Linked DNA regions of Homo sapiens. The protein of the gene in region 1 interacts with the protein of each later gene in a pairwise test. Each region holds a gene or a part of one and is shown on either strand. Other genes may lie near its edges.

Region 1 (3,746 bases):
CTAAACCTCTGCTAATTCCATTCCTCAACCCCCCCGGGGTGTAAATGCGACACACACAGGCCTCATATACAGGCCTCTTGCCTTTTTTTCTAACACAACTAGGACCTTTGTTCTGAGCGTCGTTTTACCCCACTCAATAGCTCTTTCAACTTTCTACCCCGTATTTTTTGTTTTGTTTTTAAAGAGGAGACTCTGAGACTCAACTTGCTAGGTCTTTAAAAAATGAAATGCCAAAAATACCTAATGAGACTCTCGAGAGGAACATAAAGTTAAACACATCACTAAAGGGCCTACAAAACGGAGTAAAGCCCGGAGATCGGGTGATCTGGCAGCCCAGGCAAGATCGAGGACCGCGACTAGGAAAGGAGACAGCAGGAGAGCAGTTAGACGTCCACTTAGAACGGATTCACTGCGCTATTAACCGTACCCGCCTCCCCCCGCACCGGCCCAACCTTTACACACAAACACATTCCCTCCCCCAATTAACTAAAGAAGCAATTAAACTATGCCCACCACCAGACTCGATGCTTAGGCTAAACCTCCCCCAAAGTAAAACAGCATTATCAAAAAAACACAACATTTGTCTTAAGGGTTTGGAAGCTGCCCCTTCCGTTATCTCCTCACCACGTAAGGTAACCAATTCCCTCCTGTCCCCCACCAGGAGTTCAAAGTGTGATTTCCCCCCGATTTACATGTGTTTTTATGTTTTTCCGCATTTTTCCGTCTAGGAAATGAAGGATTTCTTATTCTGAGGAAGGGAGAGACGCCGAGGAAGACAGGATTTGAGGTTTTACTACCTTCGTTATTCGAACTCCCCTCTAACTTGTTCCTGTACTAGAAACCCACTCACTATGGAGAAGGAAGGAGAGGGGCTGAACTGATGGACAAACGTTGTAAATAATAGGTTTTATGTAATCCACATATAAATAAATTAATCGCCTGACTCGCTCTGAATGCTAATACGATTGGGGTGACAATTGGCCCACCTCCCTCCCCCAAGTCCTAGTTAAACCCACCTACCACCAATTTCCATTCTGATCTATTTAAAAGGATACTCTATTCCTCTCAGTCAAGTTTCTCGGCTTCTTTAGGCCTCCCTGCATGCCCCCCTCGTCATCATCCTCCCTCAGCCTCAACTTCCCACGGCTTAAAAAACTGCCCCGCGCAGACCCCGTCTCCGGGCTCGCCCTCCCTCAACCGTCCCTCGCCGTCCCCCTGGGCAGGAAACCCCTTACTGCGGTCTAAAGTCTCTCTGGCCTCTCCCTTCTCTGACCCTCGCTTCCCACAACTGTTGTCACTGGAGCTGCTTCCTAGTTTCCATTTCCGGGCCGTCCACGGCCCCGGAGCCTCCCCTTTCCCGATTTCCGGGCCCCTCGTCCCATTTCCGGGGAACCCTTGCCGTCTTCACACCCCCCACCTGCACTTCCGGCCCCCCACTTTCTCTCTTCCCAGACACCCTCCAAGCTCCAAAGCCCACTTCCGGCCCCCCTTGGTCCCCGCCGAGCTCCCCAACACCCGCAAGCCTTACCCCGGTTCTGTGAAGGGCCCTCCTCATTGCGGGAAGCCGGAGGAGGGACCCAGCGACCCCTACCTCCCGCCAGGCCCCGGTCCCTCCGGCCGCGGCCGCCCTCGAGCGTCTCTCCCGTCCACCCCCGGCCCGGTCCTTCCGCGGCCCCGCCGCCGCCGGCGCCGGGAGCAGGCCAAGCGGGGGCCGAATCGCGGCGATGACACAACCGGGCTTCCTGGGACTTTCTGTTCCAGCTCCTCCCCCCGCCCCCCCAACCCCTCAGCTGGCCCCCTCCCCCAAGGCTTGCCCCCGCCGCCCAGAGCTGCGCCCCAATTACCTAGTTAGGCCCCAAAGTCTCCGGTCCGGACTCGGTGGCGCGGCAGTAACTTCCACTAGCTCCCCCCACCCCCCCCAGCGGCGCGGCGGCGGCGGCTCCGGGTTCCTTCAATTATCAGCTGAGCCGCAGCACCGCGCCCGGCGTGCGCCTCCGCCCGTGCCGCCTCCCTCCCCGCCTGCTCTGACACCCTCGGGGAACTACTTTGTCCTCGGGCTCCGGTTACGGGCTCGTCCGCGGGACCGGCACCGCTGCCTACTGGCGGCCCATCACATCGCCCCTCCCTCCCACGCCTCCCGGCTCGACTCTCTCAGCAGCCTCCGATCTCCGCCCGATCCCTTCGAGGGACCAGGAAGGGGACTGTGGAGATCTACTTGGTATCCCTCCGCCGGGGTCACCCCCTCCCCTCCGTGGTAGCAGGAACTAATTCCCCCTCGGGTCACCCGGGACCTGGAGCTGGAAATTTCACGGATCAGGGTTCCCTAAGACCCTTGGAAGAGGGGACGATCGCCCCAAGTTAGAAATCCTTCTGCCAGCTCATAAGCGTGGTTCAATTTAAACTAGGGTTTTGGCCCCTTGACCCCAACCAAGCCCCGCCCCTTCCTGGTTGTCTTAGCGACGGCGGTGGCGTCCCAAGATGGCGTCGTGGCTGCCGGAGACTCTCTTTGAAACTGTAGGACAAGGCCCGCCGCCTAGCAAAGACTATTACCAGTTACTGGTCACCCGGTCTCAGGCAAGTGCGAGCCGCGGTTTACCCTCTCTCCTAACTCCCTACCTGGCCCGGTTGGGGCCCGGGACGCAGGCTGTGCTAGGCCAAGAGCAACCGTAGCCCGCCGGAAGCGCCCAGTCCCGGCTCCGCGCCGGGAGATTTTCCTCGTCACCTCGGCCTCCTCGGTCCGACGGCCCGCGTGTCCCTGCTCTCCCCGAGCCCGGCTAGTCCCTGGCAAGCCTTCTCTGCCTCCCCGCGGTGCCGCGTGCTCCTTTCCCGCCACCCCGGCTTCTTACCCGTAGAGTTTCCTCCGCGCGAAGAGGAAAACGGGCGTCTCCGGCTTGCGTGCGGCCTCACCTCAGCGTGAGAAGGAGGGAAAGAACGACTCAGCCAAGTGTCCCAAGGAGGAGCCGGCTAGGGAGGGGAAAAGGAGATTGCCTCTTTTCCAGGATAGGAATTAATCATGGAGAATTTTATAAATCTCTTTGTGGCCTTTACGCGTGCCACGGCCACATCAAAACTTAGTTATTTCTAGTAGCAACTGACGATTGGGAGCTCTTACCTTTTGGAGTCCCTTCTATCCCATTGAAAGTGTGCGGGTGGTGGTATAAAAATGTTTCAGCTGCTCTGCGCTTCAGCCCCACCCATAATGACATCTGCTCCACAACAATAAGACCGAGGATTATATTATCTCCAAAGTAACCATCGGCCTATTTTTATGCCTACTTTGGTTATTGAAGGTGGGCTTTTGGATGATTTACTGTGTCCATGAAATTCTCAACTTGAGCGGGGCCTCCATTGGGAAGACGTTTCTAATCCTGGCTGAGTTTACGCCTGTCACTGAGTTATTCATGCACCCTGCCCTTTCAATAGATACTATTCCTATAAAATGAAATTTAGAAGTTTGTATATATTTGTTTTGGTGTGCATATTGATCATTCCCTCAGTTTTTCCAGGAGCCCTTAAACAAAATAGGTAATGAGTTAATTTTTTTATATTTTTGAAAGCATCTTTTAAAATATAAATGTTAATATATATTTTTTAATTTAAGATTTAGAAATATTACAAATGTAAAATCAGCCTGTCCAAAAAAAATTTTTTTTAAAACAGTACTGCTCCTTGCGGAGCAGGGCTAATTCATAGGCAGTGGGCCCAGGGTCAGACTCAAATTTTTAATTAAACTGTTCTTAGGGGGT
Region 2 (3,746 bases), on another chromosome or scaffold:
GGGACAGAAGGGGCCAATGTCAGAACCAGGAGGACCCATTTCTCCCCCATAGAGCCAGGAGTTGTCTCCCTTTTGCTTCCCTGTGCTGGAAATGAATGTTTATGATGGCTGCAAGGGACAATGTGTCAAAAATATTAAATGCAGTTTTCTAATCATAACCTGTTTTTCCCTAATATATAAGCTTTTCTTCAAAGGACACAATATTTTGAACAATGTATTCCAGAAAACAGCCACCACTACTGAAGTGAGTTAGAAAGTTTACTTCTTCTTAATAATGTTATGTTTCCCATATGATGGCTGGATACTCACAGTTGGAGGAGTTTCTTGTTTGTTTTTTTAGCTAAAAATCCTAGAGTTGGCCGGGCGCAGTGGCTCATGCCTGTAATTCCAGCACTTTGGGAGGCCGAGGCGGGTGGATCACTTGAGGTCAGGAGTTCGAGACCAGCCTGGCCAACATGGTGAAATACTGTGTCTACCAAAAATATAAAAAATTACCTGGGTGTAGTGGCGAGCGCCTGTAATCCCAGCTACTCGGGAGGCTGAGGCAAGAGAATCCCTTGAACCTGGGAGGCAGAGGTTGCAGTGAGCCTAGACCATGCCACTGCACTCCAGCCTGGGTGACAGAGTGAGAGACTCCATCTCAAAAAAAAAAAATTTCTAGAGTCACAGGCCACACCAAATACATATTACTATTTGCTAAAAATGGTCTGACTCCTTAGAAAAGCATTTTTAAGCTATATGGTTGTTTTACTGCTGCTATCTTTCCATTTTAATTCACTCTAATATTTGAATTTGCTCCCAAGGCCCAACTTGAAGAAACTGCAAAATTAACAAACAGGTGACTGAGCTCCTTCCTAAGCTGAAGTGGTCATCATGCCCCATGACCTGTGAGGGCTAGAGTTCAGATACTGCCCCCCACTCTGGTTTTGTTTCTTTGAAGACCTGACTAGGGGAATATTGAAATGAGAGTGGATTGAAATAGGAAAAATATTTTCAGGATTACAACACGATTTAGCCAAATCATTGCTTTAATTTTCACAGTTAATCCCAGGAATTCCCAGTCTTCGGAAAAGACCACAATATTTCAAAGCAATTTAGTTCAGTCCAAGCAGAATCTGCAATTTCTGCATTTACTCTCCGTCAACTGGAATTGGGTCTTCAGATGACCTGGAGATAAGTTTTTGACACAAAACCTACTGAAATGCTTCCATTGATTAACTCATTTTTTCAGCAAGGATTTTCTAAGCGACTACTACATAAAGCTACAGTGCTTGGCAAGGAAGGAAGTGGGATGTCAAGTACAGGTGGTGAGATTTCTGTGGCCTGATGTGGGCACCTCTGGAAAGACACGCATTGGAGCGCGACGGGGTAGCGATGGCATCCAGCAGCGTGGGTTCCCACAGCGCCGGCGCCCGGCCAAAAAGCGCGCCAGTAAAACTTTCCGCAATTCCCTCTGTGCCAAGCGCGTCCTGGGCAGCCGCACTTCGGAGGGGCAAAACTCACCCTAACTTTTGAGTGCAGAGTCAAACTTAAGGAATAGGTTAGAGTGAAGGGAAAGGGGAGCCCGGGCTGAGGAGGGAAAAGGCAGCGCATATCCCGGGGTCAGGGACAAGATCAGAAGACAAGGAAGGGCCCGATGCCAGCACCCAGCATCAGGAATGGTGCTCACCTGCGTTCCGGAGCTTGCGGTTCCTGAGCACGGAGAGGATCACCAGGAGGTTGCCCACGACGTCCACGGCGGTGGTGACGATGAGCACCGCGGACAGCGCTGGAGCCACCCAGGGAGGTCGAGGGGTCCTGGAGGGCCGCGCGCTGCCAGCCCCCGACCAGCCCGGGCGCACTGCCCACCCGCCCGCCTCGCAGCAGTTGGCGAAGGAGCCGTTCTCTGACATCGCAGACTCTCCCGCGCTGTGCTTTGGCCACCGCGCGGCCCCGGACAGCCGCAGGGCGCGCGCAGTACTGAGCCGGGCGCTCTCTTCCCTGCCCAGCTCGCGTGTGCAAGGGAGGAGGCCAGTGGGGAGGGGTCTGGAGGAGATAACTAATTAAGCGTGGGCAGGGGATGGAGAAAAATATAGGAATGGGAGGAGGACTTGGGGTGCAGCCGTTGTAGAAGGGAGTGCGTCCCTCAGCGGTGCGCTCAGGAACAGCTGGGACCGCACAGCTGTCTCTGCCACCCCGAGCCCAGCAGGTGCCTGGCCCACCTCAGGCTGCGGAGCGCGTCTAGCTTCTGTCCCTGAGTATATAGCCACACCCGAGACCCCGATTTCCTCCACAGCGTCCCCAAGAGAAGCTGTGTCTAGGTAGGGACGTCCAACCCAGGTTGATAGACTGGAGAAGGTGCTGATGGTAGGGACCTCCCATCAGTTGTCAAGAAAGGCAAGGTTTGACGTCCCATAGGGCTGTGCAGCCCGAAAGAGAATGCAACTCCTAAGATGTGGGGACAGAGCCCAGAACAAAGTAGGGTAGACTGTTATATTCTAGGGAGCTGCAGAAAAATACGAACCTAGCCATTTTCCAAGCACTCGCTGGGTATTGTGGGGGGCATTGATGATGTCTCTACTGGGTCCTCTTTATAAAGCCAATACTTTAACATATTTACCAACATATATTTACACATAATACTTAAATAGATGTATGGCCAATATTGGGGGTTATGATGTGGTTTTTGGAGGGGTTAGGACAAGAAGAAGATTGAGGCATGATTACAATAAAGAAGGAACTCAGGTGCCCTTTATTAAAAATGTTTGAGTCGTGATCTGGTGATAATAATAATAGATAACTTCTAATGGGGGCTAATCTTATGACCCCAAAGCACTTTTCACACCCATTAGAATCACTAAAATCAAAATGACTGATTATCCTATATTTGTGGAGGAAGTTAAGCAACCAGAACCCTCATACACTGCTTTTATGAGAATGCAAAATGGTATAGCCACTTTGAAGAGCTGTCTGTTAGCTCCTAATAAAGTTAAATATACACCTATTCTATGACCAGAAGTTCCAAATGAAAAGGAAAGTATATTTCCACCAAAAGACCTGTACAAGAATGTCCAGAGCAGCCTTGTTTATAGGAGCTCAAATCTGGTAACACCTGCAATTTCCACCAACAGAAGAATGGATAAGCAAATTATGGTATGACCTTGCAATGGAATACTACTCAGCAATAAAGATGATTGACCTACACAACAGCATGGATTAATCACAAATATGTTGTATTGAACAAAAGAAGCCAGATACCAAAAAATATATACCATATTATTCCAGTTATAGGAAGTCCAAAATCAGGGAAAATTAATCTATTTTCTAATAGAAATCAGAAAAGTGGTTACATTTGAGGGTGGGTATTGAGAAACAAACACCAAAAAATTTCTGGATTGTTATTTTTACATATGTTATTTTACGTAAGTTATATTGCCCCTCTCCTTTAAAGGGGGGAAAAAAAGAAGGAAGGATGCAGTGGAGACGGAGGGGCTGATGATGCAGAGGCATGAGTGGATGTTGAAGGGAAGGGAGAGGGAAGGGAGAGGTGAAGTGAGCTCATCCTTGAAGTGAGCTAATCCAGAACTCCTTAAAGTGAGCTCATCCAAAACCCAAGGAAGAAATATTATTTGTTAGGAGAGGGAGGCTTTCTTTCTTGTAGTAGAAAGGAATCAGAAGCCAGATGCAAATTCAGATGCACTTCTAAACTGGTGTGAGGAAAGAAGAGAACTCTTGTCTGGCTTCTGTATTCTCAGGGAGATAGAGGC

Evidence for each region.
Region 2: the proteins of TRIP12 (region 1) and MTNR1B interact in binary tests that used the Homo sapiens proteins (3 or more experiments, as listed by UniProt).

Annotation. Positions count from the first base shown.
Region 1 is NC_000002.12:229,920,036-229,923,781, forward strand, and holds the start of TRIP12 (E3 ubiquitin-protein ligase TRIP12), read right to left. Parts: upstream 1,975-3,746; 5' UTR 1,845-1,974; intron 1,755-1,844; exon of another isoform or gene 1,236-1,754; intron 1-1,235. Other genes in the region: FBXO36 (F-box only protein 36), read left to right, coding at 2,479-2,574. UniProt on the Homo sapiens protein: E3 ubiquitin-protein ligase involved in ubiquitin fusion degradation (UFD) pathway and regulation of DNA repair.
Region 2 is NC_000011.10:92,967,872-92,971,617, reverse strand, and holds the start of MTNR1B (melatonin receptor type 1B), read right to left. Parts: upstream 1,968-3,746; 5' UTR 1,893-1,967; coding exon 1,670-1,892; intron 1-1,669.